Linked DNA regions of Homo sapiens: region 1 is linked to region 2. Evidence: fine-mapped expression QTL. A gene starts in region 2. The other region holds a variant in brackets. All regions are shown on one strand. Distances are from middle to middle. Region 1 holds the start of LOC105373176 (a long non-coding RNA gene). Region 2 holds the start of LINC01281 (long intergenic non-protein coding RNA 1281).

Region 1 (16,963 bases), 55 kb before region 2:
GACCACAACTTGGTTTCCCAACAATGGCCTGGACATCAGAGCTCACTGTCTCATCTACAATAAAACTTCCCACCAAAATGCTGTTATTAATGCAACTCAACAACTAACTTACAGCTTCTGGATGTCTCTATTCATATTTTGAAGAGAGAGAATCTCATTCAGTTTTTATCATGTATTTGCCCCCAGGCAAGACATCTACAGTCAGGAAAGTAGAGTCATATGGCAAAAACATGAGTATTATGTATGATGGAAGCAAACCCTGTGCATGACATGGACAATTTTTAAAGAATAAGGACTGGGCAGCCACACCAATAAGCATCTGCTACACTGATATTGAAGCATTCTGCCAATTCTAAAACATAGTGTTATTAGCAATTATAATGACAAAGAACATGAGTGAGACTATGTAAATAGGATTGCTTATGGATAAATCCACATCCTTATAAATGTCAAAGGACAGCTCACTGTGAGGATGGACTTGTTGCGAGGAATGATAAAATTATTGCAAATTTCTTTCAAGGGAGGAGCTTCCACAGATCTGGGCTTCCTGCAGGTAAGGAAAATTAAACATATGGAAATGGAATGAAAGGTGAAGAAAGTGTTCTCTCTGCATGTGGAGAAAATATTATAAATAGATCTTAAGCAGGCAATAAGATTAAGGCATTTTGTGAATCTGAGCTTCTATGCTTGTCATCTGTCTATTATATGATGTCAATAACATCTAGAATGCCTCTCACACCAAGTCAAGCAGGTATGGTCTTTCTCCTCTGCCCTCCATGGTGCTTCTCCTTCCTTTGAAGGTGTCCATCATTGTGACTCTCTCATAAGGTCAATAGCTTATTTGAATTCTTATGTAGAGGTTAAATATTCTTGGACCTACTTTTATGCTTATGTCAGTATCTCTTCCAGAGTCCCATCTGCAATTAAGGCCCCAATGAAGGGGGAAAGATGTCTGATGTCTGCTTTCTTGGGAAGAAGAACACTTTTTAAAAATTTTTTGTTATTATTACTTTTTTGAGATGGAGTCCCACTCTGTTGCCCAGGCTGGAGTGCAGTGGCATGATCTCGGCTCACGGCAACCTCCGCCTCCCGAGTTCAAGTGATTCTCCTGCCTCAGCTTCCCGAGTAGCTGGAATTACAGGCGCCCACCACCATGCCCAGCTAATTTTTATATTTTTAGTAGAGATGGGGTTTCACCATGTTGGCCAGGCTGGTCTCAAACTCCTGACCTCAGGTGATCTGCCCACTTCACCTCCCAAAGTGCTGGGATTACAGGCTTGAGCCACCATACCTGGTGGAAAGAGGCTTTTATGTAGAGGGAATTCCTTCCAGGCAGGAAGAGAACCATCTGCCCTGACGGGGGAAGCACATGGTTCGACCCTTGCTTCCCCATACTAGACTGAGATTCTGAGAGTGGAAGGGAAGATCAGTGACAGTGGGACTTTTGTGCTCCGCATTTGGAACTCGGATGTGGGGACTGCCAGACACGGTGGCCCCATGATGCTCGGCTATAGCCATATAGTTAGCAGCCGAGTAAAAGTTGCAGTGCAGTTTGATCAGGCAGTGTTCTAATTACCTACTGCTATGTAAAGAAAGCATCCCCAAATTTAGTAACTTAAAGTAAGGACCATATAGATTTTTACCATAAATGTGAAATCTGAGCAGAGCTCAATGGGGACAGCTTTTCTCTGTTCCACAAAGCATCAGTTGGGGCAGCTCAAAGGCTGGGGGCTGGAATCATCTGAGGGTTCGCTTACTCACATGTCTTGCAGTTGATGCCGGCTATTGGCTGGGGCTCAGTGGGGACTGTCATCCCTACATGTGACCTTCCCATGTGGGCTGGGTTTTCTCACAACATGGTGGCTTGGTTCCAAGAATGACTGTTCCAATAGGACCAGGTGGAAGCTGTATTGTCTTTTTATGGTCTCAGAAGTCATATAGCATCACTAGAATCATAACCACTATAATTATAGGCCTGCCAAGATTCAGCAGGTGTAAACAGAGGCCCCATTTCTTGAAGAATTAGTGTGAACTTCACATTTAAGAAGATAACATGGGGTGGAATATTTTGGTGCAGTCATCTTTGGAAAATACAATCTGCCACAGGCAGAGAGAGGGCAAAGAGACTGAGCTAGCACGTGGAGCCATCCTCAACTTCCTGGTGCTGTGTATGGAAGTCGTAAATTCCACAGGCCCTAATGGGACTGCAGGGGACAACTGAGGGTCAGTTTGGGGACCTTATCAGGGAAAATTGCTGCTACCAGGCCAAGGGCTGAGTGAATGTCATGGCCACACCTCAAGGTGTCTGCATCACCATCAAGAACTAAGGCTCCGTCATCCATAGGGTGCTATGGGGTGGAGGGTGGTTTAGATTCCTGGTTGCTGAGGAAGGCCAAAAACACTGAGTTGGGGTGGATGTAAGAGTTAGGGAGATGCAATAGAAACAGCAGGAAGCCCAGGACCGGGGCTGGGCATTACTAGTAGAACACCCAGAATAAATGCCAAACACTGATGGGGAGGACTGGGGAATCTGTCTTGGGCAAAGCAGGTGAGAACAATACAGTTACAACAGCTTTGAGAAAAAGAAGATGAGTCGGAAGCAGGGAAAGGATTCTGGTGAAAAGAAGAGCTGAACTGGTTCTCCAGGTTGAGGGATGAGGAGTCAGCTCCCTTTTGGGGAGCCCAGGAAGCAAGGAGTAGAGCACTGGCCTGTCTTTGGCATTTCTACACACACGGGCTCCCTAAATTCTCTCACACAAAACCATTGTGAGACAGCTATGATTATCCTCATCATACAGCTAAGGAAAAGGGAGCTCAGAGAGGTAAAGAAACTTGCCCAAGTCATTTACTAAGTGACAAAGGCAGATTGTGCTCTTTCCCTCTCAGCCTTATCTAATAGAACTTTCTGAGATGATGGAAACGTTTGATGTCTGTGCTGTCCAGGATAGTAGCCACTCATCACACATGGCTATTGAACACTTGAAATGTGCCTAGTGAGGCTGAGGAAGTGAATTTTCAATTGTATTCAATTTGAATTCATGTAAGCTTAAATTTAGATAGTCACAAATGTGGCTAGTAGGTACCATATAGGTGAGGGCTGATATAGATCATTAGCAAGTCACTGCCTGCCTTAATGGAGTGGTGCCTTGCATCTGTCTGATGGGGAGCTTTTGCACCTCTGTGTGTGTGTGCACATGCTTTCATTTTGAGAAAAAGTCAAACTTGCAGAAAATCAGCTATTTCTTCATAATATTTAAAGAATCCAATTCCCAAACAGTTTTTAGTAACCAATATGTAGTGCATTTGTATTCCTTGGAAACTGTTTAGAAAGAATAGTACAGAGTTTGTAAATAAGTCAAATTCCTATATACCTCTTGTATTGCTAATGGTTTGGAGGAAACAGCTCCAACGGATCATTAAAAATGTAGAATAATTTTACATCATTAAGATTTAAGAATGTAGGTGATATCCAGCAGGAGAATGCCAGAATGGGCTAACTCCAAATTGTGTCAGGAAGTTACAAGCTACGAGGGCTTAAATGACACCTGCCAACATGAATTACTCTGTTACTAAGATCAGGAATGATCAGTCCTCAAACACTAGGAGAGGGAGAGATGAGAATGAAGATTTTAAAAAATCTCAAACTAGTATCATGGCTTAATTAGCCACCAAACTAGAATTTGTACAACCTAAAGAGGGTTGCCTTTCACAGTAGGAATTGAAGGAATGTTGAGAGTAATGACAGCATCATCATAATCAGTACATAGCTTCCATCAATGACTTCTCTGAAAGAGAAACAGTCACTTAAAGGTTTTATTTATTTACTTAAAATTCATTCATTATTCATCCATTTTGCTTAAAATGCAAAACCATTCCTTTCTTAACACATCCTTTACTCAATAAAAATAAGCTAACCTTGCTTGATTAACAACATGAGCTCTGAGACATGCTGAAAAACAGTGGTTATTAGAAACTTTGCACCTAGCTTATTTAAAGACAACCATTTCATCCAAACAGATGAAACATTAGGCAGCTCCATACATCGTACAATTTGTTCAGTGACATTTATTGGAACTTGAGTTCCTTCTCCAGATCTTACAACCAACAGATTTTCAAAGCACTGGAACGGAGTCTGTCCCATTTTTTTCCTGCCACGTCCAGATCATGCCATTTGCCTTGCTCAAACTTTCCCTTGTCTTAATGTTGCAGACTGATCATGGGAAAAGTATAAAGAGGTTGGGACTTTGAGATTCCATTCTTGTTTTCTGAAAGGTGCTGTTGCCTCCTATTTGATTTCTAGAAAGAGGGAAGGGATAGGCTGGCCCTAAAGATAAGGCTACAGACTTGGAAGCACAAGAGAAATAGGTAGAAAATTAAGGCAAGGACTTAGGGTACACACAGTTGAAGACAGGAGTACAATGTCGGGGCTGGACTAGAGGCAAGCAGGAACTTGTAAAAGTCAGGAGTTTTGAAGTCACAAGTGACTTGAAAACCGCGTCTAAATAACTTAAGAAAAAAGAGAATGTGTCGGTGTATAAAGTCGGAAACTCCAGGAGTAAATCATCAGGAATAGCTGGGCCCAGGCACTCAGTTGATGCCATTAGACTTCTGTGTCTTTCCTTTCAGTTTCGTTGCCCTCTGATTTTTAGGCAGGCTCTTTCTTCCCGGTGACAGCTGTAGTCTTCTCACCTAGGAGCACAGAAACTCTGTTAGAAAGACTTTTTCTTCTTTCTAATCGTTTCTAGGGAAATTTCCAGGATTATATATCTTGTTGACCTAGCTTGGGTCACATATAGAGTCTGACCCAGCTCTTCTGGCTAGAGGGATAGAATGCTCTGATTGGCTACGTCTGGAGGATGAGCCCCAACCCTGCACTCCAGGAGTGGGGTCATCCTCACCAGAATCATGAGGATGAAGGGTGGATGAGGTAGATCTCTAAAATAAAATCCACGTGCTCTTATTAGAAGGAGTGTTTGATGCTGTTGTTGCCACAACAAAGCTGCATAAGAAACTACCTTAAAACTCAGAGACTTAAAACAAGTCTTTAGACTTTAGCTCATGGAGAACATCATCCATAATTGGTTACCTTCCTGTCCAAGTGTTAGAAAAGGGAACTGCATGTGCAAAGGTTTTGAGGCAGGAAAGATCTTGGTATGTTTGAGAAACCAAAAGTCAGGCAGGGGAGGATGGGAATAGTAGGGAGGGGCTTTAGGTGAGAGACTCATTGCAGGTAAAAAGGGATTTCTTCAGATTTATGTCTTAGTAATTTCCCTCTGCCTGTTGGGCAGAGAATTGGGTAATTAGATTGGAAGGGGCAAGAGAAGAAGTGAGAGGTCTGTTTCCATAGTCAATGCAAGCAACCAGCTGGAAATAGGCAGAGATGGTGTGAAGTGGGGAGATTCTAATGGTATTTTGGAGGAAACAGGGTTGACAGTTGCTGATTGGGGGTGGTGAGGGGAGGGAGGACTAGCAAAGATGCCTGATACTGGGCAGCAGTGTAACGTCAGGGAATGCCCAGGAAGCTAGTGGGTCATAGGACAATTGCACACTCCCAGGGGGCTGGTAGGAACATTAATTAGTTCATATTTGTCTGCATATTCTCAGATAAAAGAGGCTTTATAATCTTCAAACGAAGCATGAAATTTTGAGCTGAAAGAGGCCGTGTAGTGCAAATGAAGATGGGAATGGTTGGGATGGTAGACCAATTACAAGGAGCTTGAACGTTCTTGGTCAGCATCTCTCGGACAGCGGGTACTTCTGGTGGCCACAGAGGGTCTTTTCATCACCAATCTTCCATTCCAGCTGAGATGAGGTCTTTTATTTTAACCTGAAAATAAAAGCCCTTTCCCTGAAGACAGTACCTGCCATCATGTTAATTTCTTCAAAAAGGAAAGAAGAACAAAAAGGAAAGACTTACAGGGTCTTGGGAAGATTATAAAACTCATTAAAAGTTCATTTAAACTTGAGGCAGCCTTGATGTTATTCAGAGATGTTCTCCCAGGTTTAGGGAGAGGGGTAAAAAAGGAGGTCTCAGGAAGGCCTGGGGTGGGGTGAAGGTAGCAAGACATTATTCCCAGGAAGTAATTCCAGTGGACTAACATTAGATGGTAGTTTCTTCTCTTGTAAATTTGACGTTTGTCCGTTTCTTTTAACTGCATATTCTTTCCAGGTTGCTCAGATGAAGCGTCAAAAATTATATTAAAACGCTAGTTAGGAAACATCACCCCCAACAAATCCTGTTCATCAAAATGTTAGTGGTCTCTCTGGGGGCCCTGTGTTCGGTTTGTCAACAAGCTGAAGCCGTGGAGCTGGGGATCCGTGAGGCCCAGGAGCATGATTTAATTAATATCCTACCCATAATACCTTGCTGGGTTTATGCAAACAAAGCCCTGTCACTCCTCACCTTAGGATTTACCCTCTCCTTGAAGCAAGTATTTATTTACCCACAGTTTGACCTCATGATGGTGTTCAGCAGATGTGGATCTTACTTATTTGCATTGTTTTGTGACAGTTGGAAAATTCATTAGTGGTTCAGGGATAAATCCTCTGTGGACCGCCCCAATGATAGGTGAAGTAAGAGGGTTGTCACTAATTAATCCTCCTCTTCAGCGATGCTGGATATTGATGATAACATAGTGCCCCTTTCAGAAATTGCCTGTATCTGTTTGAAATTTGGGGGGCAAAAGTGACAGAAACTGCCTCTTGGCTACCTTGGGCAAAAGGGACTGTTAAAGGATGATATTGGGAGCTTAGATAAATGACAGGGAGGCAGGAACACCGGGTGGGAACCCAGCTGTGTGGCAGGCACTATAGAGGCTGGTGCAGGACAATGCTCTTGGGGCAAAGGAGTGTCCTGCAAACCCTCTTCTGGCTGTGTGTCACTCTGCTCACTGCTCAAGATCCTCTCAGAAGATGAGGTCACATAGCTGCCCTTTGCTGGATGAGGGTAGTGAAGGAGAACACTCTTTGGCTTCCATGGGGAGTGGCGAGGCCCCTTAGGTACCATCCCACCCACCCACATAACACAATGGGAAAGAGGAAATTCCTCACCAGCATAACTGGTAGTGGGAGAAGGTGTGCAGGGCCAAAGTTTGACCAATGTCCAGCATCCTGCTTGCTGTCTGTGAATCACTGCCAGTTCCCAAAGCCTGCAGGCATCAAATGTTTTGCTGCAAAGTGTCATATCTAAGGAAAAATGAGGGGAACTGGGATTATTCCACTCAACGAATCAGACTTGGGTTGGAATAGAACTCAATGGTGTATCAGCCCACTGTCTCTCTGTAAAGCCCAAAGCACTGTTAGGCTGAGGACTTTTGTTAGCTCTTCATACCAACTCAGTTGTAAAGTGTGTGGTGTGGGGATTGTCATCCTGTTTTATACAGATGAGAAAGATGGGGCTCTCTTCCCACGCTTTTCACTCTGCAGCAAGCTACATCTCTATGAGGAACATTTATTTGACAAGTGCTTGCCTGGAAAATAATGGCCAGCTTGTTTTCATCTATGCTGAAAGGCAAAATCGAAGAGATGGGCTTTATGACAGACACACTGATCGGGCAACCAAATAATAAAATGACCTCATACATTCAACACACGTTTACTGCATATCTGTGATGTGCAGTCTAGATATTAGCAGGCAGAGTGTTTTATGGGGAGCACTTTAGGGTTAGGCAGGCAGAAGGGCAACCCTCCGAAGTCCCTGGGCTGTCCTGGAGCAGGCACACCTTCCTCCTCGGAAGCAGTTGATCCTAAGGACAGAGAGAGTCTTATCTGTAAGGGTGGTAGAATGCACCAATTACTCAAAAGGCTCACCATACAAAAGTGTATTTTGGTTGAAGGGCAAAGCTAAGGATGGGAGTAGGGAGTACAAGGACCTCTCTCAGCACCCTGTCTCCTCTCCACCTGAGAAGATTCCCTGGAATGAAATAAGGCTTTAGAAGCTTTGGGGGCTGGGTGCGGTGGCTCCTCCCTGTAATCCTAGCACTTTAGGAGGTTGAGGCAGGACGATTGCTTGAGGCCAGAAGTTCAAGATCAGCCTGGGCAACAGAGTGAGACCCCATCTCTACAAAAAATTTAAAAATGAGCTTGGAGTGGTGCCATGAGCCTGTAGTTCCAGGTTCTCAGCTGAGGCAGGAGGACCACTTGAGTCCAGGAATTTAAGGCTGTAGTGAGCCATGATTGCACCACTGCCCTCCAGTCTGGGCAACAGAGAGAGACTCTGTCTAAAAAAGAAAAAAAAAAGAAAAGAAAAAAAGAAAAAAAAAAAAGAAGAAGACGCTTTTGGGAGCATAGAAGTAAGAAGAAATAGAAGATGGCCTGGAGGGAAGGGGGCAGTTCCTTAAGCTTCCTAATATGCTCCCGGGGCGTCTAGTACCCTGGGCATGTTGATAACTTCCCTTTTATCTCCTGGCCAGACCAGTCTTCAACTCCAGGTTTGTGTATCCAACAGTCTCAAAACCCACATGGCCACAATTCGGCTCTTGATTTTCACCACTGAATTTGTTACTTTTCTCGCAACTGTTATCATCTCAGGAAAGGGCAAATCCCTCTACTCAGTTGCTTGCCTTTGATACTTTTCTTCCTATCACCCTCCTCCCTCCAAGATCTAATCTGTCACTACTAAGTACTGCTCATTCTCCCTCCACAAACTCCCAGGACATCTCTTCCACTGCTTTTCATTCCCGCAGCCACCAAGCTAGAAGCAGCTCCCTCCAGCTATTCCCTTGATTGACTGCAGTTTCTCATAACTGGTATTCTGGCCTCTCCAATCCATGCAGCAGTTACAGTGAATTTTAAAAACCTCTCAGCATTATTTCAATGCACTTAGGATAAAACCCCAGTTCCTCCTAAGTCACACATGGTGTTGTAGTTCATGTCTCATTGCCAGAACTCTCCCTTCCCTCTCTGTGCTCCAGACAGACTAGGTCTTCCTTTGGTTCCTCCAGTGATTATGATGAGCTCTCACCTGCCTTGAGGCCTATGGAAGGCTGGATTCTCCAGGAAGATCGCAATGCAGATTTGAAAAGTTCCTGTCAGCCTAGTGGCAGCTCTGAGCAAAGGGTGCCCATGAGAGCAGCCCTTTGTTGGGCAGAAATGGCCAGCCGAGAATACCACCTCCTTGCTCAGCTGCTGGCCCAGGGCCGCTCTGAGAGGAATGTGACCTCAGCTCAAAAGCTGAGGCTGACCCTGCTGAAGCCAACAGCTGTAGGCTGTCAGCTAACTGCAATTCTCGTAGTTGGGCAGCAAATCTTTCCCTGAAAGGGGATCTGAACAGTGCTTCCTCATATATGCCATAGGAAGTCAACACATGCTCTTTCTCTCACTCCCACCTCTCGCATTGATATCTGTCCCTCTAGTAGACTGTCAGTTCTATGAGGGTGTGCATCCAGTGGCTAGTACAGTGCCTGGCACACAGTGGGTACTCAATAAATATTTCTCTAAAAAAAAGTGAAAAAGGTAGATAGAGAGGGAAGGAGGGATGAAGGCAGAGAGGGAGAGGGAGAAGGGATGGAGTGATGGGGAAAGAAATAAAGGGAGAGAGGGAAGTAGGAAGAAAGGAAGGAGAACAGGGGAAAGGAGAGGTGTAGGGAACAAATGTATGGGTAACTGAATGGGATCTAAGCTCATAATGGCCATCCTTTACCTCTTTCCCCTTTGTATCTGCCCTAAATTCCTGTGTTCTCCCACCTCTGGGCCTTTGCATATGCTGTTCTTTCTTCTTGGAAGAGATTAACCTGCACTTTTTATCCACTCACCATTCAGGTATCAGCTTATTCTCACGTTTGTAGGGAGGTCTGCCCCTGAACTCCTTTATCTGTTAGGGTGAGTTTAACTGCAAATAACAGAAGCTCAATATAACAATGATTTAAACAAGATAGAGGTGTGTTTCTTGCTCACACAAATGCCCAGAGGTAGGCAGTACAGAGTGGGTTTGGCTATTTTGCTCCAAAAAGTCTTCAGTGACCCAGGCTCCTTTTATCTTGTTTCATCCCCTATGGTCTCCATTCTCAAAGTCACTTATGGTCCAAGACAGCTACCCTGATTCCAATTATCACATTCATATTCTGGCCAACAGGAAAGATAAGGGGGAAAGAAGGGCACTTTCTGGAAGTTGCATACACCATTTCTACTTATAGCTATTGCCCAAAATGTAATGGCCATAGCTAGCTGCAAGGAAAGTTGGAAACTGTTGTCATTATCTGAGGTAGCCATTGTTCAGCTACAATTCAG[G/A]ATTCTGACTGTCAATTAAGGAAAGGATATTGGAACACAACCCCTAGGAGCCTTTGCAATACTCCTCATGTAAATGAGTTATTTATCTTTTTTGTTTCCATATCTTTGTCCACCCCTCCTTTAATTCATTCCAGTTGTATATGTTCAGAGCCTATTTTCGACTTTTGAGTTACACGATGACAGTGATCAGTCCTATTTTGTTTTTCTCTTCATTTCCAATGCCTATGCACATAGTAATATGAAATAGATATTTGTTGAATGAATAAATGAATGAATGAAAAATGGCTCTCATATGGGTTCTCATAGCATTGGAAACACATTTATGTTACAGCAACCATTATATTGTAGTATTGTGTGTGTGTGTGTGTGTGTAAATTTTTTAATTGGCATATAGGAGATGGGTTAGGAAATATTACCTTGGGGTATGTTCATTCTAACCTCCCTGAGATGGTTTTTACAATGTATTGCAGGTCCCCTTCAAGTAGGAAAATCCTTGGATGCTCAAGTCTCTTATATAAAATGGTACAGTATTTGCATATAACCTATGCTTATCCTCCATATACTTTAAATTATCCCTAGATTATGTATAATACCTAATACAATGTAAATGCTATGTACTGTCAACCCTCCGTATCCACAGTTAAATCCATGGATCAAAAATACATTTTAAAAAATTTGTAAGAAACAGTAAAAAATAACAATACCATAATGAAAAATAATACAAATTTAAAAACAATACATTATAACAACTATTTACATAATATTTACATTATCTTAGGGATTATAAGTAACTAGAGATGATTTAAAGTATCTGGGAGGATGTGTGTAGGTTATATGCAAATACTACACCATTTTATATAAGGCACTTGAACATCGAGATTTTTGGTATCCACAGGGATCTTGGAACCAATCCCTGTGGTTACAAAGGGACAACTGTAAATGACTGTTATACTGTATTGTTTTTCTAATTTGTAATATTTGTATTGTTCTATTGTTACTTTTAATTCATTTTAAAATATTTACAATCCCTGGTTGGTTGAATCCGTGAATGAGAAACTCATGGATAGAGAAGGCTGATGGTATTTTTAAATTGGAGTTTTAAATTTAAAAATAATACATGCTTATCATTTCAAATTAATATGCAGATACTTTACTGTAAAAACTGAAGCCTTCTGGTGTAGGATAGATTATTGGACACAATTCTTCACCCCTTCTGTATCCTTCTCTACCCTTTGCTCTGCCCCCTTGACTTTGGAGCATGGCCATGTGACATGCTTCAGCCAATAGGATGTTAGTAGAAATGAACCAAGCAGCATCTTGCCATGTGCTTATGTGGTTGTGCTTTACCTCTTGTATCTCTGCCAGCACCATGAGAAGAGCTTCTCCCCTGTAAATGGCCACTCTCACTTGTGGGTCCATGACTAGCTGAACTGAACCCATTCCACAGTAAGGACCCAAGCCCAGCAGATCTGCAGCCAAAACCAAAGTTGCTCAGTGGGACCCATGCCACATAAGCCGACCCATGGCCAACCTGAAAATAAGTAAGCAAGAATTGTTGTTTTCTAATCATTGAGGTGTGGGGTTGTTTGTTACAGCAGCAATAGCTGACTAATAATCTCTCTTTCCTCCCCCTCAGACCTTTATTCTGCTTGTGCACACATATTTCTGTGTAGATATGTGGCTAGACTATCAATTTCTTAAAAGTGGGGATTGGGTCTTCTTCATTTTTATCTTTTCCCCTTAGAACAGTGATTGAAAACACAGTGGAGTGGGAAGACAGGCCATGGCATATGACATTTCCAGTCAATAACATACTGCTGTGTGACCTCGGCTAAGCTGTGTGATCTTCCTGTGCCTCACTTTTCTTATTTATAAAATGGGAGTATTAAAATCTACCTGACATGGTTGCAGAGAGGAAGGTTTGAATATCCTAGCAGGGTGCCTGGCATGAATGTGCATTACAGAACTGGCATCTTTCATAGTTGGTACAAAATACATGTGTGTTGTTGCTTAGGTAGATATGCCTGAGATGAATAAGGAACTGATGTGAATAATGAGGTGGCTCAGAGTGCCTTGGTGACAGGTCAGTGTCCACCCTTTAGTACCCTTCTTGTCTTGTCATTGTTCTTTGCTTTGAGATCATTGAACCTCACAGCCAAGTTTCCTGGGAAGACAGACAAGCATCTTGTCCTTTGGATGTCAGCTGGTGGGGTGAACACCAGCCAAGCAATCAGAAGGCCTAGATTCTGAGGGCTTCTTCAGTCCATTAGGTAAACCATTCAGCTGTCATTGCCTGGGCCCAATACCAACCATGAGGCAAGGAGATGTTAGTTTTCCCATTTTGCAGACAAGGAAACTGAGGCATGAAAAAATGTTATGACTTACCAAAGAATGAACATGAATTACTGTCTGAGACAAGGGTAGACTCTTAATCTAGTGCTTTTCTTCTATACCCCACTGCCTCCCAGACTGTCAGGAAAATGATGTAATCCACTCCGAGAATTCCCCTCTGGAAGCTCCCCCAACCCCAGCCTGTCTATCTGAAGATAAAAGCAACCACAAATTCAGTTTACATCTTCTTTTACTCCCTAGCCTGTTTGAGCCAAGGCTGAATGGTGCCAATTTGCCTATGGTGGTTTTTATGATGTGGGCTGGGATCACTGGGGACTGTTCTGAAACCATCAAATTCATTTCAATTAGAAGTGTAACTTAATGTCCAATTTTCAAACCAGATTCCCTAGGTAAAAGGAGGCCATTTTGTTTGCTGAGCTGCCTCAACCCAGTGAACAGTATTTCTGGGTACCAATTATGCCCAATTGTGCACCCTGGTTGGGGCATTTTCTCCAAGTTAATAGGAGGCACAACTCAGTCAAAAGGAGGGGTGGGAGAGTCTGCATGGAAAATGGGGGGACATGTGAAATTTGAGCCAGTATAGATCAATTCCAGAACACTGCCCAGGGATTCCTAAAAAAGAACCCAGGGAAAAATAAATACATCTCATCCTTATTAACACTCCAAGCCCTTAAATGAGTCCCGATGTTAATCCCTAAGAGATGCCTAAATATCTATTTCAAATTGCTGCCCTACTTGTCTTATAAAACAACTTGTACTTCTTTTTATTCTCTCCATGTTCAAAAATAAAGGAAATTCCTTTTGCAGTCTAGGGCCAAGGAACAACCCAGGCCTGGCTTTGATTACTGAAAGCCAGAGAATTTTGAGTGAAAGCTGCAGCTGGCTGCCAGGCTTGTTATTAGCAATAAGCATCAAGCCATTCTCAGGAGAGCAGGGGCCTTTTGAGAATGTCAGACAGCAGCCTGCACCTCCTTTTGACAGCACCTGCAGTCACTGCTGGAGGTACAAGCCTGTCCAGAACTCCATTTCCCCTTGGCTGAATCAGCAGCCATAATCAACAGAGAAATAACTCCTTATATTTATATAATATCTACCTACAAGCAACTCAAATTGCCATGATCCTGTTTAAGATTCGACAATGGCTCCCCATTGTCTCTCAGACCAAGTCCAAATGCCTAGGCTTATTGTTCCAGGTCTTGTGACAACAGAGCCCACCTTAGTTATTCAGGAGCTTTTTTATTTTCTTTTTTTAAACAGATTTTCAGCCAAGACATTCTTTTGCAGCCTAAGAGGGTTATTATGGAGAGGTGGAAAGATCTTCAAACCTGGAAGGCTTGCTTCAAACCCCAGCTCTACTCCAACTACAGGATTGGGGCAGGCAAGTTACTCACTCTACCCAGGACTCAGTTCCTTTCTCATTTATAAAATGATGCATTCACAGTAGATGATCTAATCTAACATGTCCTTAGTGAATCTGAAATCTTATATATTTTTTGCTCCGCTAACAGCCCTTTCCAATCCCTTTCTCCCCACTCTGCTTCTATTCTAGAGGCTGGAAGAGCTAAAATGTTCATTTCTCAGCCTCTCCTTCTGCCAGCAATAAGACACTGGGAGGTCTGTTGATGTGGCAGATGGCGGTGGCATGCCCTGTGTCCCATGCCCACAGTCTAATCACCTCTGACTTCAGTCACAGCTGTGGTGGACAGTTCCGTGTGTTCCAATTCACCTCATGCAAGACAGCATCCAGTCTCAAGTATGTGCTGTGCATCTTTCTGCTCTCTGCTCCAGGGCCTTCTCTGACACTATGGAAGCCCACTGGGCCTGCATAAAAACAAAACTTGGAAGTGTGAGATTCATGCCCTTGGGATCGACCCTTAATCGATGGGGAACACGGCCTAGTGGATAGATGCTCCAGCCACCTGTCCTTTGGGGGCACACTTCTGGGAGGCATTGTGTACAGTTATCAGGAGGTCTGGGTGCAATTGAGCCTCTAGGGCCCCAGGCAGTAACCTTTTTAATATGCCTTTATATTGTCATTTTCGTCTTTACTCTCTCATTCTCCTTGCTTCCTCTTGCGCATACAGGGATCAGTTACCAAATAAACTATGTGCACTCAAAGTTTTTGTTTGGGGCTCTGCTTTTGAAGCTACTTAAACTAAAAGAACTGGCATCACCTCTCTGTCTTCTATCTTGACTGCAAATACAGATATGATGGCTGGAGCTAAGCAGCCCTTTTGGGATCAGCCATATACCATGGCTATATGTGAGTGAGTGTGAGAGGGAGAACAATTTAGGTGGCGGGGGATGGTGGTGACTCCACACTGATTGCCTGGGATGGGAGAGTTTCCCTTGGTTTCTCTAGGCTCCTCTGTTTCTATCTCTCCTGATGTGACTGTCTCCTTCCACTGCATATGACTTTAATATTAAACACAGCTTATTATTGTTTTTTTTTTCAATATAAAGTGCTGACACAGTGCAAGCCAACTACCTTCTCTAGTGGCTCACAGAAGAAAGAGTGATCTCTTTGGACACCACGGGGATGGTGGCTGCTCTCCAGTGTGTTGTGCCTCTGTGAGAGATTTTGATGGCACGTGATGTTACTGGCTGATGGAAGAACCCAAGCCTCATGCATGAGGGCCCCCACTTTTCTCATATCTGGAGCTACCTTCTTTGTGACTATAGCCCTCTGCCTGGGCCATTTCGTTCATTGCCAAATTTAGTCCCTTCTCCTAAGCCTAGATCCACATTGCCAGGGCCTGCTGTTTTTCCCCACGTGGTCCCGGTCATTTGGATTTAAACATCTGTGGGACTTGTTCAGTGGGCTCCCTCTTCTTGTCCTTTTGCCTGCCTCTGATACCCTGTGATTAATCATTTGGTTTTCCTTGCACAATGTGGCTCAAATGGATTGGTCTTTGTTTATATTCCTACCAGTCCTGCCCTCGATTAGGCCCTTAATACTTCTCTCTCTTTTTTTCTTGAGACAGGGTCTTGCTCTGTCACCCAGGCTGGAGTGTAGTGGCGTGATCATGGCTCACTGCAGCCTCAACCTCCTCAGGCGATCTTTCTCTCTCAGCCTCCTCAGTAGCTGGCACCACAAACATGTACCCCCACATCCGGATAACTTTTTTGTATTCTTTGTAGAGGTGGGATCTCCTTATAATTGCCCAGGCTGGTCTTGAACTCCTAGGCTCAAGCAATCCTCCCACCTCCACTTCCCAAAGTGTTAGGATTACAGGCGAGAGCCACTGCACCCAGCCCCTTAATGCCCCTCCTAATTGCTTCCTTGCTGCCCTTCTTGGTTCACATCACGCTGCCCTATTCACTCCCAAGAAGTTACCCTTTTAAAGGGTGTTGCTGAGCAAGACATTCCCTTGCTGGAGAACTTTCAGTGACTTCCTTTTCCCCATGGAATGAAACTCAGATTGCTCATTTTATTTTCTAACTAAAAGGAATCAACCATTATTGTGAGAATATATTACTTACAGAGCACCACATTTGGTTTATGCTATTCCTCCCCTCCCCCATGAAATGCCACTCCTCCATCTCAAGCTTTGGAGGTTCTCCCCTCCTTCGAATGCCATGTCTCGCCCTCGAGACTTTCCAGATATCTTCAATCAAATTAAAAATTTCCTCCCTTTTTTTATCCAGAGCAGTGCATACTTCTACTATAGTTTTCATAGATATGCTCTTGCATTGTATTGATTTTTGTGTGTGGACTGTCTCTTTACTAGGGTGTTACTCATTTGTATATCCTGGTGGTTTGGGGTAGAAAGAGAGGTGATGGATGGTGTGGTGGCAATAGTGAAAAGACCAAGCCTGGGTGGCAGCACACAAGCTTCAACACCAACTCACAAAGTGGTTCCAAATATTTGAATTCTACATGTGAAGAAAGTTAAGCCTCATTACCTCAACCAGTTAATTTCAAGTATATTTTCCTTTGCACAAGAGTGCTATATCATACAAATCTGTATAAATACATTTTAAAGTACTCTTTTAATAACTATACAATAAAAATTCTAAGTGGCATGAAAGCATTGAGTTATAATTTAAATGGTGGCATTTTTTCCCCTGCTTGGTACATAAAATATTGGGAGGTCTTATATTGATGGATCTAAGATTCAATGAAATATCCTTGCCACAAAGGAAAAAAGACAAGCAATGGGGCTCCTGACCCTATCTTGGCCATCGGGGAGGGTTTTCCTGAGGAAGTGACATTAAGTTAAGATCCATGCAAAAAAGGACACTAGGAAAGGATTCTTCAATTTTCTTAGGTGAAAGAAATAAAAATATAGCCCCTGTTTCATCCTACTTTCATGAGATTTCCCTACCAGAGGCCCATGGCTCCTCAGCAGGCCTGATTACCAGCTCCCTTAAATGTAGTTCA
Region 2 (16,963 bases):
AAACAAGGCCACAAGAGAACAAGGCCTTTTACCCCTTCTTTTCTTCCTGCTTTGGATGCTGACATGTGAGGATGATGCCTGGGGCTGCTGAAGCCATCTTGAGACCATGAGGCAGCCAATCTGAGAATAAAGGCATCAGTCTGAGGATTGTGCAATTGGAGGATATTTGTTGGCCTGGTTAAGCTGCTGAACCAATCCTGCAACTGGCCACCTCCAGGCTACTGGTTAAGTAAGCAATATGCATACTTGTGGCATAAGCCACTGGTAGGTAGATTTTTCTGTTGTACTGAAATATATCCTAACTGCTATTTCATACTGACATTGGAAATTGGAGACCAGAGTAATCAATAAGATGAAAACATATACTGTTAATTCTTCCAGGTGGGAAATACAAGTTGTTTTCTGTTTAGGTAGAGCACTGAACCTCACAAACACCAAATTTATTTGTAAATCGATTGATTGTTCATTGGCGTTCATTATGAGGGAGCCTAGGACGGCAGAAAGCTCATGGGACTGGTGTCTAGATAGCAAAGTTTTGGTCTCAGGTCTGTGATCTCAGGCATCAGTTCTCTCTTTCTGTAGAAGAAACACAAAGGTTTGAAATTGAATCAAAGCCCGACATTCAATAGGGCATTAGTCCAGGACAAATTTTCCAGACTGTATTTTTTTTCTGTGACTGAAAACCCTTACTTCTTCAAATCTGAATCTTAAAAGATGAATAAAATTCATCTTTAAATAAAATATCTTTAATGTGAACTAATATTTTATTTTAGTGATAAAATAAATGAATAAAAAGAGTTTCAACTGGTTTCTCTTGTTTATTAAATAATGTAATAAATATATATTACATCTATATCATTTTTAATTGATCCATGGTGGAGAATTTGAAGAGCTTACCTTTTCTTAGTAGAGTTTGTGTTGGGAAACACAGAACTAGATGGCTCTGATTCTGAATAGAAAAATGTGTTAGAGTTCTTTGCCGATACAAAGAGCCAAAACGAAGGTTTCAGCTGGTGGTGTTCTAGTTTCAGGGGGCCAGGGCAGAAACACTTAGAACAGAAACTGGGATGGCATCCCAGCTTCCTGCCTGTTGTTCAAGCCCACCCTGACTTTCTGGGTGAGGGACCTGTTTGCCAATGCTATGCTTCACTTATGACCCTGAATAAAAATCTGGATACGCTGTTCTATGGAAGTAAAGCAAAAAACTTTAATTTAGGAACTGTCATATACTAGTGTATGGAAATCCATTTCTGAGGCCCTTTGAATTCTTGTTTTCATAGGACAAGATCAATGGCTAAGAATCAGATAGTCAAATGCTGGAGGACTCTTTACTGAGCTCTGCTACAGGCACAGTGCTATGTGAAGACATGGTCCTTCTTTTCTAGGATGTCTGTATGTATGCATAGTCTAGAGAAGCTGATATTACAAGAGGCCCAATCCCATTTTTCTGGACAGAAGGAAAGCAGTCGACAGTTATATAAATGGACAAATATAATTATATTGCTCTGGAGTGGGACTGCTCTATGATTTAATTAAATCAGACGCGTTTAGCCCATTTCAATGGCTATTGAGGCTTCTCACTTTCAGAGTAGCTTCAGAGAGCCTTTTGGACTGAATTGTCTCGATGCAAAACACAGCTGAGTTTTGAAAATGGAACCCAGTGTCCCCAGTGTATTTCTGCCCCCTGACAGCCTAGGAGTATTTTTTTTTTCAGAAAGTCGAGAATTCAATACATCATGATTCTTTTTTAAATCATAGAGCTTTCTGCAGCCAACCAATCTGGAGTCCCAGTGAGTTAACTGCATTCTTTATCCCAAGGCAGTTTGGTAGAAGAAATTCTATTAGTTCTGCTGGATGCTGGTCTGAGTCCCAATCAGAAGATGAAGCAAGAAGACGAGATTGGCTGAATATACATATGTTTGTTTTGGGGTGAGGGAGTATCTTAAGAAAAGAGAGTTGGATCAGAAATAGAGCTAGACTCAAAGAACACTGCAGGCGACAGAAGGCCAGCACACTATCTTTCCACATGGAAAAAGAATGCCTGAGAATGAAGCTAATGCCAAGGAAAGCAAAATGAGATGGAGAAAAGGAGACAGAGTTGGAATCTGAACTCTTAGCTACAAGCAAAGCTTTATATTTCTGATATATGTAAACCAATAAACTCCTCTTTTTATTAAGAATAATAAAAAGCCAAGCGTACCACAGATTTGGTCCAAAAAGTCTAGCTTCTTCAGCAGGAAGGCAGGTAGCAAGGAAAGTCCTCAAATTTTCAGAAATGTAAAGAAAGAATTAAAAAATGGGATCAGAGACTGTGAAAAAATAAAGGTGATAATAAAAGTGCTTTGGAGGTATGGAGTGCTTCATAGTTTCTAAAACAACATCAGTTCTCAAGACATACAATAGATACTTCAACTTGTCTCAATGCTGCAGAGCACTGTGGGACTATTGGAGCTTTGATATGAGTACTGTATGTTTATGAATGCAATCTAGGGTAGCATTAGCTTTTGGGGGCATTTCATTCCAAATAACTTAATTGCCACAAGGTTCCTATGGGATTGATAAGTCAAGTATTGTTATTTATTATTATTCCCATTTCAATAATAAAGAAATATTCAAGGTCACAAAACTAAGAAGCGGCAATATTGGGAATTAAATGCAAAACATCTGACTCCAAGCTCAGTGCTCTTTCCACCACGGTATCATCCAATTATCTATTCAGTTATCCATCCATCCATCCATCCATCCATCCATCCATCCATCCATCCATCTACTCTTCCTTCCTTCTGCTTACTTATTCATCCATCTATCTGTTCATCTATTCAACAAACACTAATTAGACTACTTTTATGTGATAATGCTTCAGGTTCTGGATATAAAAAATGTAACTTTAGTATTTAGACCTCCACAGGCTTTGAGGGCAAATGAGGTGCTATGGTTTGGTTATTTGACCTTCTAAAACTTATGTTGAAATGTGATCCCCAATGTTGGAGGTGGGACCTGGTGAGAGGTGTTTGGGTCACAGGGACAGATCCCTCATGGTAATGAGTGAGTTCTTGTTCTAGTTCCTGTGAGAGCTGATTGTTAAAAAAAAAAAAAAAAAAAAAAAAAAAAAAGCCTGATTCCTCCTCCTCCTCTCTCTCTCTCTTGCCTCCTCTCTCACAATTGATCTGCACACACCAGCTCCCCTTTGCCTTCTGCCATTAGTGGAAGCTTCCTGAAGCCCTCACCAGAAACACATGCTGGTGCCATGTTTCTTGTACAGCATGAATAACTGTGAGCCAAATAAACTTATTTTCTTTATACATTGCCCAGCCTCGGGTATTCCTTTTATAGCAGTACTATTGGACAAGACATAAGTCATACTAGAATTTATATCTGTGTTAGGGTTCTCTAGAGAACCAGAATCAATGGGATGTGTGTGGGTGTGGGTGGGTGTGTGTTGGCGGGGGGAGAGAGGGAGACAGAGATACAGAGACAGAGATAGAGAGAGATTTATTTTAAGGCATTAGCTCACACAATTATGGAAGCTGGAAAGTCCAAAATCTGCAGGATAGGTTAGCAGAGGCTGAAGGCCCAGGAAAAAGCTAGTGTTCTGACAGAATTCCCTCTTGGTCAGAGAAGGTCAGATTTTTGCTCTATTCAAACCATCAGCTGATTGGATAAGGCCCACCCATATGAGGGAGGGTCATCTGCTTTATTCAAAGCCCACCCATTCAAATGTTAATCTCATCCAAAAACACCCTCACAGAAGCAACCAGAATAATGTTTGACCAAATATCTGGGCACTGTGATCCAGCCAAGTTGACACATACAATTAACCATCATAGTATTTAAGTTGCAACAGCATGTTGTTTCTACCGAAAAGGCTACAGGATGATAAAGTTTCCTCCAGGTTTTTCTGAGACTGCTCAGAGAAAGCTTTGACTGTGAGAAGAAGTCCACTCAGGTTTTGTAACTTTGGCATCTTAGAGGAGAACCACAACCAGTCAACCATTCAGGAGATGACTCTTCTTCATGGACCCTGCTCCAACGCTGCTGAGAAGATGTGGTTCCCCTGGGGACTATGGTCATACTCACAGTTCCACCACACATCAGTTCTTTCCGGCAGTGCCAACCCTGAAGTGCTAGAGTGCCAAAGTTGCATTGAGATCTAGAGTGAAAAGATATGGGGAAAGAATGACTTCCTCTCCAAACTTGGGTGGCTTTTTATCCCTTGGGTCCTGGAAAGTTCCACTTGTCTCTGTCTCACATGCTTTTATAATGAAATCAGCCTTTTCCATGTTGACCTTTACCCAAATGGTCTAACTGATTGCACTTTAAATATATAACCACAAACCTCGAAATAGCATTCTAACCACATGGCAAGCCTTCTTAGGAAGCTTGTTAAATTTGCCCTCTGATAAACCTACTTCACACTTTCTTCTCTTTCTTCAAACGTACATTTCCCCAACTCCTTACTCAAAAGCTTATGCTCTCATGTCATTCTTTGTTAACAAAGTGGAAATAATGACATGAAGCCTCCATATTTTCAACACTAACCCAACAAATTTACATGCTCTGATTTCCAAGTTACCAAGTTACCAAATCCAATGGACACTCTCCTTATCCCTCATTGTGCTGGTTCTCGCAGAAGCAATTGACACAGTTGGCCCTCCCTGCTTCTTCTTCTCTTTTAAATTTAAAATTTTTTTGAGACAGGGTCTTGCTCTGTCACCCAAGCTGGGGTATGGTGGCACAATCACAGGTCACAGCAGCCAGCTCAATCTCCTGGGTTCCAGCAATCCTCCCACCTCAGTCTCCCAAGTAGCGGGGACTACTGGTGCAAATCACCACACCTGGCTAATTAATTTTGTTTTTGTTTTTTGTAAAGACAGGGTCTCACTGTTTCCCAGGCTGGTATTGAACTCTTGGCCTCAAGCGATCTTCCTGCCTCAGCCTCCCAAGTAGCTTGGATTACAGGCACCAGCCACCATGCCTGGCCCTCCCTGCTTCTTAAAATACTTCCATACCTCATTTTTCATGACACAAATTTTGCTCTTTGTCTTCTACTCAACTTCTACAAAGATAACTCCAAGGTTTAGTCTCACAGTCATCTTTTCTTTATCTATACCTACACTCCTAGGTGATCGCATACAGTCTCATGACTTTGAATACTGAAGCATCTATATTCCAGATTTACATTTCCAGCACAGACCCCTCCAAGCTTATAGATAACCTGCTTAGTTTTGTTCATTTGGGTCCTCCAAAAAACAGACTGGATTACAAGTGCAAGAGATTTATTGGAGGAAAATCCTGTCAAGTAAAACAGCAGGTAGGGAGCTAGAGCAGGTGGAGCCTCCAGAGAGCAATGCAGGTCTGACACCTGTGGAAGGAGAGTGAAGGAAGGGGACTTGGGTAGAAAAAGTCTTGGACTGTAGCAGAATTCCAGAAAATGTCCAGCCAGGCTGATGAAGAGTCCTTGAGCCAAGGTTGCCTGTCAGAGGAGTCCCCATGTCCTGCAGGAGTGGACCTGCTTTAGTATCCCTGGTGTCTTCAGTCACTGCCTGGGAGCAGCCTGTGGCAAATGTGGCCTCAGTGTGCAATGTAGAAGGTGGGACCATCAATCAACTTTGCTTCATGCAGCAAGAGATCTAAGTGACACATTTTCACCACCCCAATATCAGTTAACATCTCTTCTTTAATTTCTAACAGACATCTCAAACTTAGCATAGAAAAAAAATGGAATTCTTAATTCTTAATTGTCCTCATCACATATGTATTCCCTTTAAATTTTTGTCATCTTGGTAAATGGCCTCACTTTCTTCCAGATGCTAAAGCCAAAAATCTAGAAATCATTTTTTAATCTTTTGCCCCATTCCCTACATCCAGTCCAGAAGTAAGTCCTTTTGGACTTACCTCCAAAATCTCAAATCCATCTACTTCTTTCCATTTCCACTGCTACAGTCTTATTCCAAACCTCCATCCTCCCTCACCTGTTTTCCTAAATGGCCTCTCCACTGCTACTCTTGCCACCACTATAGCCGATTCTTCACAGCAGCCAAAATGGAACATCCCGCAGGCTGTTGCTTCAGCGGTGCACCATTATAATAGTACTGGAATTTGAGCACACTGCCTTGCTCTGCAATGCCCTATGTGATCTACGCCTGTGTACTTCCTTGTGCTCACCAAGACTGAGGCACACCTTGCTCCTATCTGTTCTTCAGACACTGGTCCACCCTCCCCAGTGCCTTTCTGTTCTCTTCCCCTATCTTCACACCTCTCCCTTCTACTCAGTCTTTAAAGATCATGTCGCCTTTGCTTTCTCAGATAGCCTTTCTCTGACCACCTTTTTAAAAGCAGACCCTTACCCCCACCCAAGTTATACATTAGCAAAAAACAGTGATTATTTCCTTCATAGCCTGTATCACTTTCTGCAATTACCTTGTCTATTCATTTTGTTTACATATTTCTCTGTCTCTCTTTATGCAAATGTAAACTCTATGAGAGCAGGGACCTTGCCTGTCTTGTTTAATGCTATTTCCCCAATGCTTGGCACAGAGCTGAAGATAATAGAAGAGACATATTGACTGTTTGTTGACTACTAAGCGAGTGACTCTCTCTTTAACAAGGGCTCAAAACTGTCCTTCAGGTGCTATTGGTAGCTGTTTCAGGTAGAAATAGGTTTTATTGCATATAACAGTGGCTTAGTCAAATTGTGATTTGCTTCTATTTTTCACAGACCGCGAAATTCAGGGGTAGTCAGTCAGTCTAGGACTGTACCATGGTTCTACAATGCCACCAAGACAGGGGGATTCTTCATGCTTTCATTTGGCTGTCCTGAATGGGTGGCTTTCAACTTTATGCTTGTTGTTTCACGGTCACAAGATGGCTCTCTGCCCTCTTTATAATGTTTTGTACAAGGTAGGAAAAAGAAGGTCAAAGATCAAAAAATATCAATTGGCTGAGTCTCCCTTTTTAAGGAGCTGTCATGGGCTGGGCTGCCCAGAATTCAGACTCTTAGATGGACATTAGCATGTGGGAGATTTATCACGGAGACCTTTTCGGATCAACAAGAGAGATCTGGGTCGTGCACAAAAGATTCTACCATGCAAGCTTTCTTGAAAGCCCATATACTAACTTCTACTTATATTTCAGTGGCCAGAGCTGTAGCATGTAGCTACCTTTAGCTGAAGGTAGCTGCAAAATATAGACTTCTAGTTGGGCCACCATGAACAAAATGAAGGTTCCATTAATAAGAAAGAAGGGGAAAATATTTAGGGTATTTAAGCAGGTGACCAGTGGCCTCTGCCATGGTGCCCCTTCTCTACTCTCTTATCTCTCTTCTCTCTCTTCTCCTACTGTTTTAGCATTAAAAATGAACAAACAAGCAAACAAACCAAACACATAAACAAAGCAAACAAACATGAATAAATCTCCTTCTTCCTTCATTAGCTAATAAACAAAAACTTATTAAAAGTCTCACAAAAACTGTGTAAAAACTTATGTGTATAGACCTTGCAAGGAAGATGGTTGCCACTATGCTAAAGATATTTTGATCTTCACTGGGGCCGACTGAGCCAAGATGAAGAGATGTAGATTCATCCCCAGGAAATACAATATAATGTGGAAACAAACTAATATATGACAACCTGATATAAGACAATACCCTAAGTGGGAGGGGAGGAATGTTCTAAAGGCAAAGGAAACTGAAAAGAGGAGCACCCTGGTCTATGTCAAAGAGACAGGGAAGGCTCCAGAAATGCAGAGATACTGAAGACATCATCATAAGGAAAGAGGAGCATATATTTTGCAGGGGCCAGAGGGGCAGGGAGCTGGATGACAGGCAATATACAACCCAAGCTGGAGGAACTGAGCACTGGGAAGCCAGAATCTAAGCATGGTGGAGACAGAGTGTGGGACAAGCTCAGGCACCTGCAGCAAAAATAGTGCTGGCCAAGGAGCCATAGTCCTTTCCCTGGCTTTTCACTCCTCCCGCCTAGGTCCAGAGATGCTCCTCTGGGCAGATCTCCAAGCTAGGGAAAGTGTGGCCTCTTGACAATATTGCTGGAGAAGGAGGGAGGAATGAGGTTTGTAGCCCGTGGCAGGTGGGTAATGCCTATGAGTGAATTAAATTCACACAAGCAGCCCTTTCACAATCGTCTAGACAGGAAATAGAGAAGGGAGCTCAGTGGAAAACATCAGTTGTGCCCACGCACCCAACTGTTCCAGTAACATAAAAGCAACAGCAGTTGGAGATACTTAAGGCAGCCATGGTATTGACAGAAAAAGACTCTGGATTTGGATTGCAGCTGTAGCATTTATTAAATGCACGTCACAACCTCTCTGAGCTTCGTTTTCCCCACGTTTCAAATGGGATGCAGTGGACCCTGTTGCCTACCCGGTAACTTTTTACCTTCTTTATCCTTTTTTACAAAACCTCAATGTCATTCAGGAATCCTCCTTGTTCAGTGAGGCCACATGCTTCAAAGGAAGCAGGCTGTAGTCTTGGCCTCACGAGCCAGAGAACTGGAGTCTATGCCCTAATTCTCAAATTTACAAGAAATGATTCGCCTAAGTTAAGTATGATGGTCCCACTCCCTTTGGTAGTGATTGGTTACTCATGGGTGTGTAATTTAATTCTGGCCAGTGCTCTGGGAGGGGAAGGCTTTGGAAGCCTTCTGGGAAAGATTTGGATGATAAAGAGAGATGTATTGAGATAAAAACTCTACTTTTTCTATTACACCTTATAATATCTGCAAATGAATTCCAGAACTCCAGCAGCCGTCTTGCGACCATGAGGCGATTTTGCCAAGGACAAAATAATATACCAAGAATGCAGAGGGAAAGATAGAAAGAGCATAAGACCTAGATGACTGAGGTGAATCACTGAATTAACCAATCCTAGAGCATCCACATTTTAGACCTCCTTATTACATGAGGGAGTAAATCCTTTGTTTGAATCAGTTGCACTGAGATTTTTTGTTATTTGCAGTTAAAGGTTATCCAACTGATACAAAAGTTATCTGCTGCAGTAAGGACTAAACACAGTGGCATGTGAAAGTGTCAGTCCAAAGCCAGTACACTAGGTCCATAATATATATTTATTCATTTATTTGAATTCTATTTCATTATAATATCTCTCAAAATCCCAACTACTTATGTAATTTTTTTATTTGAAAATTTTTCTATCTTTGGCTGTCTGGGAGTCACTAGCAATCTGGGCCATTGTCTGGCCTATTAACTATTTGACCTGCTTCCCAACCACTTCTAACTATTGGCCCAGGAGTGGTCCCCAGAGTATGTCTCCTAGCAAGAACCCACAGCATGGGGCTCAGGGCATAAAGACAGGGCCTTTGATTTTTAGCCTAAGGATAATTTCTCCTAGAAAGAATCAGGACATCTTAAAAAGCAGTGTACATTTTTAGAAAATATGATTTAGAAAAATCAGAATTAACTTTGTTTTGAAATTAGTCTCACAACCAAGTTAGGTAACTCCAAATGGAGCTCTGAATTTACAATTTCAGGATTCTTGTATTGCATGTCCAATTTGGGAATTAGTGCATAGACTCCAGATGAAACAATTTGACAGCACAAAACCAATGTACAGTATAAATATTCTTATTTCCTAACTACTTGTCAGCTATTTCCAGTGAGTAAATATTTACACGTTTTCCTCTCCCCCTGTGGAAAGCAGTACTCACATATATGAACATAAATATTTTGGTGTATGTAAATATTTACTCACATGAGCAATATATTTCTTTTTCTAGTCTCTGTTGTAAGTTTTTTAATAACAGAACAATTCCTGCTTACAAATAAGTTCTGATCTTGCAACTCTCCTAAAATATTCTGCAAATGAGAGGCATTTTATGGTAGTGGTTAATTGCTGATTAGTTAGAGCAGCTGGGGATAAATTTGAACTCAGCACCCTACTAGCTGTGTGACCTTGGGTAAGTTCCTTAGTCTTTCTGTGCCCTGAGTTTCCTCATCTGTAAGATGAGAGTAATAATAGTATCTAACTTATAGGATTTTTCAGAATATTAAATAATTTAGTGCATATAAGGTGCTTCACAACACTTGGCATATTGTAAACCTTTAATAATTAAATATTAAAATGAATATTTTATCATTGTCAGTTACAGAAAATGTCATTTTTTTCTATTTAGTATTATATTATGAATATAAATATATTTATAAATAATATCTTAATTTTATGTCTCTTTTTTATCATTCAAAGAATTTTCAAATGCTAACAATAGATTCCATGTGAGTAAATTACCCTAGACTGGCTTTTGATTATTTCTCACAATCCACTGGGTTAGTGGCCATCATTTTTTAAGCACTTACTGTTTGCCAGGCATTGTGTTATGTGCTTTCAAAGGCAACATTTAATTTAATCATCACAGCAACATATGAGGGTTTTCAAACTAAAAAATAGGGCCTCAGTGAGGATAATTAACTCATTTTACATTAAACAACTGGAAAGTGATAGAGTTGAGACTCAAACCCGGGTCTTCTTGATGTGAAAGTCCTTGCTCCAAACCATTATGCGATCTTGTTTCCATCATTTACATAGAGATGTCCCTTGCAGGAAGGGTTCGGTGTTTTAAAATTTTCTTTTGTCAGGAAAGTAGAGTAAATTTTAATTTATGTTCTGGCCTCTGGGAAAATATACATCATTGACAAATCAACATTGCCTCACTCAGAGCCTTATCAACACCATGTTATAAAATGTGGTTGACTGTATGGTGTTGAGACTCACCCCACAGTACCCCATCTTTTGAGTTTTAGCTTGGATTCTTTTCACAGACTCTAGACAAGATACAGAATCTCCCTGCCCCCGATGCTGATCTTGTATTCATGCTGCCCAGCTCCTCCAGATGGTATGTTGAATCGAAATGTTGGATTTCAGCCATGTGGTCCCTGTTCTCAGGAAGCTCCCAGAGACATCCTCTGATTAGGTATCCTTGGCACATGAGGAAATAATGTCTCCCAATTATTGGAATCTTCTCTTGCTCTTGACCACCAGGCCTGTCAGCAATCATTGGACCAAAGCCAATGGTATTTTCCAGTGTCCCATGCCCTTGCAGCACTTTTTCCATACAGCTATAACCCAGATGTCAGGAAACTTACTCTCACTGCCTCCACAGCCACCTGCATCCATAAAGCTGCTGACCACACAGCAGACTATGGTGTCCAGTTACTGACAGGATTCATGTGGCCAGAGCCTACTTGGCCACCTGAATTGCCTTGGAAAGATGACCTACACCTCCCTTTCACCTTCCAAATCTCTCAGAATTATATCAAATGGGCAGAACTCTAGTTCTAAAGTAATGTTCAAAATATGGTTTATTTTGTTTTACATTTTTAATTGACACATAATAATTGTACAAATTTATGCGGTATTGTGTGATGTTTTGATAAATGTATGCATCTTGTAATGAGCAAATCAGAACAATTAGCATATCCATTACCTCAAACATTTATCATTTCTTTGTGGTGGAAACATATAAAACTGCTCTTCTACCTATTTTGAGATATACAATACCTTATTGTTGACTATAGTCACCCTACTGTATAATAGGACACTAGCACTTGTTCTTTCTTTCTAGATGCATCTTTTTACCCATTGATCAGCCTCTTCTTATCCCCTCTTCCCCCATACTCTTCAATCTCCGGTAACCACTGTTCTATTCACTGTTTCTACGAGATCAAAAAATTTTAAGATTGTTCGTATAAGTGAGATCATGTATTGTTTTTCTGTGCCTGGTTTATTTCACTTAACATATGGCTTCCAGGTTCATCCATTCACATTGTCGAAAATGACAATTTTATTCTTTTTTTATGACTGAATAGTATTCCATTGTGAATATATACCACATTTCCTTTATCCATTCATCTGTTGTTGGACACTTGGGCTGATTCCATATATGGCTATTGTGAATAGCACTGCAATGAACATGGAAATGCAGACATCTCTTTGATATACTGATTTCATTTCCTTTGGATATATACCCAGCAGTGGGATTGCTGGATCATATGGCAATTATAGTTTTAATTTTTTGAGGAACCTCCATACTGTTTTCCATAATACTGTACTAATTTACATTTCCACCAACAGTGTGTAAGGATTCGCTTTTCTCCCAATATGTAGTTTTTAGCTTTCCAATATACCCAAATAGAAAGTGGTTCAACTGGAGTTTGAGAAAAGTGAATCCAGTTATCCAGCACAATTCTCTCACACGGACCTGTTCTGAATTTCCTTTATGAATTTTTGGGTTGAAGGCACACCTTCTTATTCCCTTGGTCTCTCTTTCTCTTAGACACCACTTATATTCAAGTTCATGAACAAATTAAGAAACAGTGATTTATTATTTAAGAATCACTTTTGAGCACCTACTTGTCTGAGAAGACACTGTATTAGGCACAAACAACACAGAAAGGAATAAGATTTGGTTCCAGTTTTCAAAAAGTGCACAGCCCTTAAAGGTAGAGGGACAAGAAAGTAAATTATATGATACTGAGTGAGAAACGGTAGAAGAGATATGTGTGTAGGATTCTGTGGAAGTGCATCTAAAAAGTCAGATTCTTAACCATGCTAAGAGGGAAGTGTTAGAGAAAGTAGAGAGAGAAATAAGGAAAATGCATCTAAGAAGAGGCAGAGGCTGGCATGAAACTTGATAGACATTGAACCAGGTATCCAGCAGGTATCCAGTGCTGCCTAAAACCACTCCAGTACTTATCTTCAAACAACGTTTTATTTTGCTCGTGATTCTGCAATCTGGGCTGGGATCAGCTAGGTGACTCTTCTGCTAGCTTTGCTGGTAATCACTTTTATGATTGAATTCAGCAGGCAGTTTGGCTGATGGCTGAATTCAGCTGAGATTTTCTTTCTCTCCAAGTAGTCTTGGGCCTCTGTCCACATAGTTTTTTTCACGTGTTTTCTCTTACAGAGTCAGCTGGATTTCTTAGACAGTGAATCAGGCTCCCAAGAACAGAAAAACAAAAGCTGCCAAGTCTTCTTAAATATTAGGCCTGTAGCTATTCAAGTGTCACTTAAAGGTAATCGTAGGAGACCGGCCCAGATTCAAGGGGAGATTACAGAAGGGCATTAATGCCAGAAGTAAGTGCATTAATATGGTTCCTTGGAGCTATCATATGATTGATCAGCTAGATGAAGTTGAAAGAGGCTCCAGTCAGGAGAAGAAATAAGAGCAAAGACCTGGAAGTTTATAGTGTTTTGAGGAAAATTAAGCATTTCTGGGTGGTAAGTTGGTGGGTATATAGGCACCAATGAGTAAGATAAAGCTACAGTGCTGGCTTCTTCAACCATGATCTCTGCTTGGCTCTCATCACTTGCCTCATCTGACTTCCCTGGACTTGACTTGCTTCCTGGCAATGACTCCTGGTCTGCTGAACTCCCACCTGATCTAGCTCTTTTTTGATCAGATAAATATCAAAGCTATGTTGGCAATTGTTATCTGACCACTGAAGCCATTTTCTCTTCTTTCTGGGCACTCGGGTAGACCATAATTCTCAGCTTCTCTTGTGGTTAGTTTTGGCCATGTTAACTGAGTTCAGGCCGAAAGAACATGGGTGCAAGTGGTGACGTGCAATACTTCCAGACTTGGATTGTTGAAAACCTTCCATTCCATCTTCCGTTTTTTTTCCCTCTCCAATTGGCTGCAAATAGAGAACAACTTCAAAGCAACTTTGAGAGCCTTGTATGGAAGATGGCAACTTTGAGAGCCTTGTGTTGAAGATGGCAAAGCCACAAGATGGAAAGTGCTTGGGTTCTTGGATCATTGTATGGAGGGGTTCTGCCCAACTAGGATCACCCAGGCTGGATTGTCATGTGAGTGATAGTAAAACAATTTTTGTTGTCATAAGCCCTTGAGTTTGTGGATGTTCATAAGTTATAGCTGTCAGCATTGCCTCAACTAATATAACGGGGAACCGAGGAGGCAGAGAAGTTCTTAGCATCACCCTGAGAAACAGGAGAATTTGTGGGGAAGGAGATTGCATGAAGGGGAGGATAATAACTCAAGCTGAAGCAGGGCCAGCCAAATCTGGGAAGAATTCTTTGAATGAGGTAATGACAGTCTTCCTTTCCATGTGGCCAAATGTATATAGAGAAATATCTGGAACCCACTGCAGATTGACTCATTGACACATTCTTATCTGAAACTGAATTTTACCCTCAGTTTCTTAAAGTATCTTTGACAACTCGTATCCTTGGAAACTCTTCATATTTAACCTACTGACAGGTGAACAATATAGCTTTTTGGGTAAGTTAATTAAAGGAAGAGGATTTTATGTTAATGAAATAATTCATATTTGATTCTCTGATTTAATTTGGTTCCCATAACAGTCCCTCAAAGTTAGATGGACAAAATCTAATATATATGTATTTCTGGATGGAATAGTCAAGGCTGAGGGGGAGCTTACTTGGCTAAGACCTCTCAGCTACATGGAAGAGGCCTGGGACCCATGTTTTCTAGCTCTAGAACATTTGTAAGCAAAATATGCAGACCCTGGTGATAGCCCACCCATACTGTCTAGACCTACCTGACTTCATTGCAGTTGAGGTGGACAATTCTAGAGCACACTACAGCTCTCCCTCTGCAAGGACCTGTACCTCTCAGCTTCTCTGCCTGATGATTTGTTCCAGCACCCTGGGAGTCTTCTTAGCTCAGCACAGGCACGACTTTGGAAATGTAAGGGAGTTAATGTCCCAGAGGTCAATCCTCAAGCAATGGGGTGCAGGAAGTTGTTGGATAAATACCCAGCCTCCCATTCCCTGAGGTGTACTCCACCTGGTTTCTCAGAGGGTTCTCAGCAGGACCGATCTCCAGCAAGCATCCACAGCTCATTAGCACACACTAAACTGGCTTTCCTCCCTTCCCTGCTCCCTCATCCATGCTTTGTGGGATCATCTCCCAAATAAACTGCCTGAACCCATTCCTTATCTTAGAGTCTGCTTTCAGGGTAACCCACACTTAAGCAGTATACGTGGACTAGAGAAATTAGAAGCACGCAGGGGAAAACAGGATTTTTTTTTTTCTCTTGCTCCCTCTGAACTGAACTCAGGCATGAGTGAGGATAACCTCTCATGGCAGTGAGTGAGGATAAAGGCCACATGAACACCTCATCAGACACTTCCTGTCAGACTCTCCTCCTTTTCATAGGCAGTTGGTGGCACCTGCCAGTCTGGACTCCTCTATGCATGGTGACTTTGCTCTGCTGCCCAGCTGGCACCAGGCACTAGATGAACAGCCTTGGTCCCAGACAGCAGCAGATGCTGCCAGCTCACCATCTCCTGGCAGCGGATTCAGGGTTGGGACTGGGCAGCAGAGTTTGATCACTTGCCCTGGCTGCCACAGTTTCCATCCTCTTCCCTGTATCTTCTAGTCATGAGAGGCCTGTTTGATAGAGATGTCAGCTCAGCAGTGACTGATGTGTTGAGACAAGCTTAGTGTGGCATGGTGCCATAGGGAGCAGCAGAGGGGCCTCAACCAGATGCCAAAGGGCCCACAGGCCCAGGTCTGACATGCTGAACTGTGGCAGGCTGGGTGTGCAAAGATGTCATCTGTGGGTTATCACCAGAACAGCTGTGTTCATTTGTTCAAGCATTCATTCATTCACTTGTATAATATTTACTGATGCTCCTTATGTGCCTGGTACTGTGATATGAACTAGGTATATGAGAGAATGAGAGAGATGTAATCTCTCCCTTCCTTGAACTTATAACATAGAATGGAGGAAGATATTGATAGAATATCAGACATATAATTATATGGAATCCTGAGATTTTCTTTTCCCCATTTCTCATACCCACCCTCCATCTGGAGCCAAAGCCCATATCAAGACAGAGTGCTTTAAAGATGGTGAAAAGAAAGAGTCCTTTAGTATGATAAAAGCTCCAGAGTTATGCCAGGAAGCAAGCAGCTATGCAGCCACTGGTAAGAAAATGTAATACACAGAAGTTCTGCCAGCCACTCTAATTATGACAGGTATTTCTTCTCTGCAGGCCAAGGTGAGACAGGTCAGTAGGTGGTAACTCCTGGAAAATGGGGTGGGATCATTATTTGCAGGGAGGTATAAATGGCTAATATAAGAGCAAGTGTGACTTCTTCTCTAAGTGCATGCCATCACATACTAGCATCTCAGGGCTAATGAGCATAAGGAAATAAAGTTCTAAACATGGGATTTCAACATTTGTAGGGAAAGAGTTGGGATGTGGGGACAGCTTATCTTTCTAGGGTCTTCCTTGTGTTTCTCACATAGGCTGGCCTGGGTCTGGGAGTGCTGAGGTTGGGGCTTGGGCTTCCTGCTTGTCTAGAAAAGGGCCAAATCTCAGCTCCAGTCATTGTTGGTCTCCAGGGCTGCTCAAGATCTGGTTCTTGCAGATGCTATTTGGAGCAGCTCCCAAGCCATTAAACCCTTCCTCCTGGGGAGCTCCACAGCTGTCAGAGACGAGGAGGAGACAGGGTGGAACAGCCAGTTCAGATTCACTTCAAACCAGAAGTGGAACAATCCCTGTTACATTATTAATCCCTGGAGCCATGTAAAGTTTCATCTGTTTTCTCTCAACGATTTGTTACAAACTACATTTTCCAAAAGCTGCAAGACCTACGACCAAACAGCATCTTTCACATGTGTGTGAAAATCCTGGGGTAACTCCTACAGGGCTAAGAGCAGAGGGCATGGGTTCTAATCTTGCCTTTGACACAAGCCAGCTGTGTGACGATGACAGGGCCACCTTTCCCCTCTGAACTTCAGTGTCTGTATTGGTTAGCTATTGCATGTAAAAATACCCACAGTCTTAGTAGCATACAACAATAACAATTAGTATCACAGATCTGCGGGTCGGCTGGGGTTTGGCCAATCTAGTCTGGGCTCAGCTTAGCAGCAATGCTTCAGACTGTAGTGGTTCTGCTTCATATCACAGGACTGGGGCTTGGATGGGCTAACTCTGCTCCAC

The links. PIP is the estimated chance that this variant, and not a neighbour inherited with it, causes the effect.
Region 1: its variant is the best candidate, but not a certain one, in a credible set for the expression of LINC01281 in whole blood (TOPMed, PIP 0.56).

The regions. Positions count from the first base shown.
Region 1 is chrX:39,373,856-39,390,818 of GRCh38, reverse strand. It overlaps LINC01282 (long intergenic non-protein coding RNA 1282), which reads left to right. Exons shown (of 6, transcript NR_110385.1): 2 at 11,593-11,768; 3 at 13,837-13,957; 4 at 14,129-14,332. LOC105373176 (a long non-coding RNA gene) reads right to left here and starts at 7,166. Exons shown (of 2, transcript XR_949023.2): 1 at 7,051-7,166; 2 at 3,800-4,689. The variant G/A (reference allele first, on the strand shown) is at 10,228.
Region 2 is chrX:39,318,640-39,335,602 of GRCh38, reverse strand. It overlaps LINC01281 (long intergenic non-protein coding RNA 1281), which reads left to right and starts at 8,241. Exons shown (of 4, transcript NR_038968.1): 1 at 8,241-8,380; 2 at 13,673-13,834.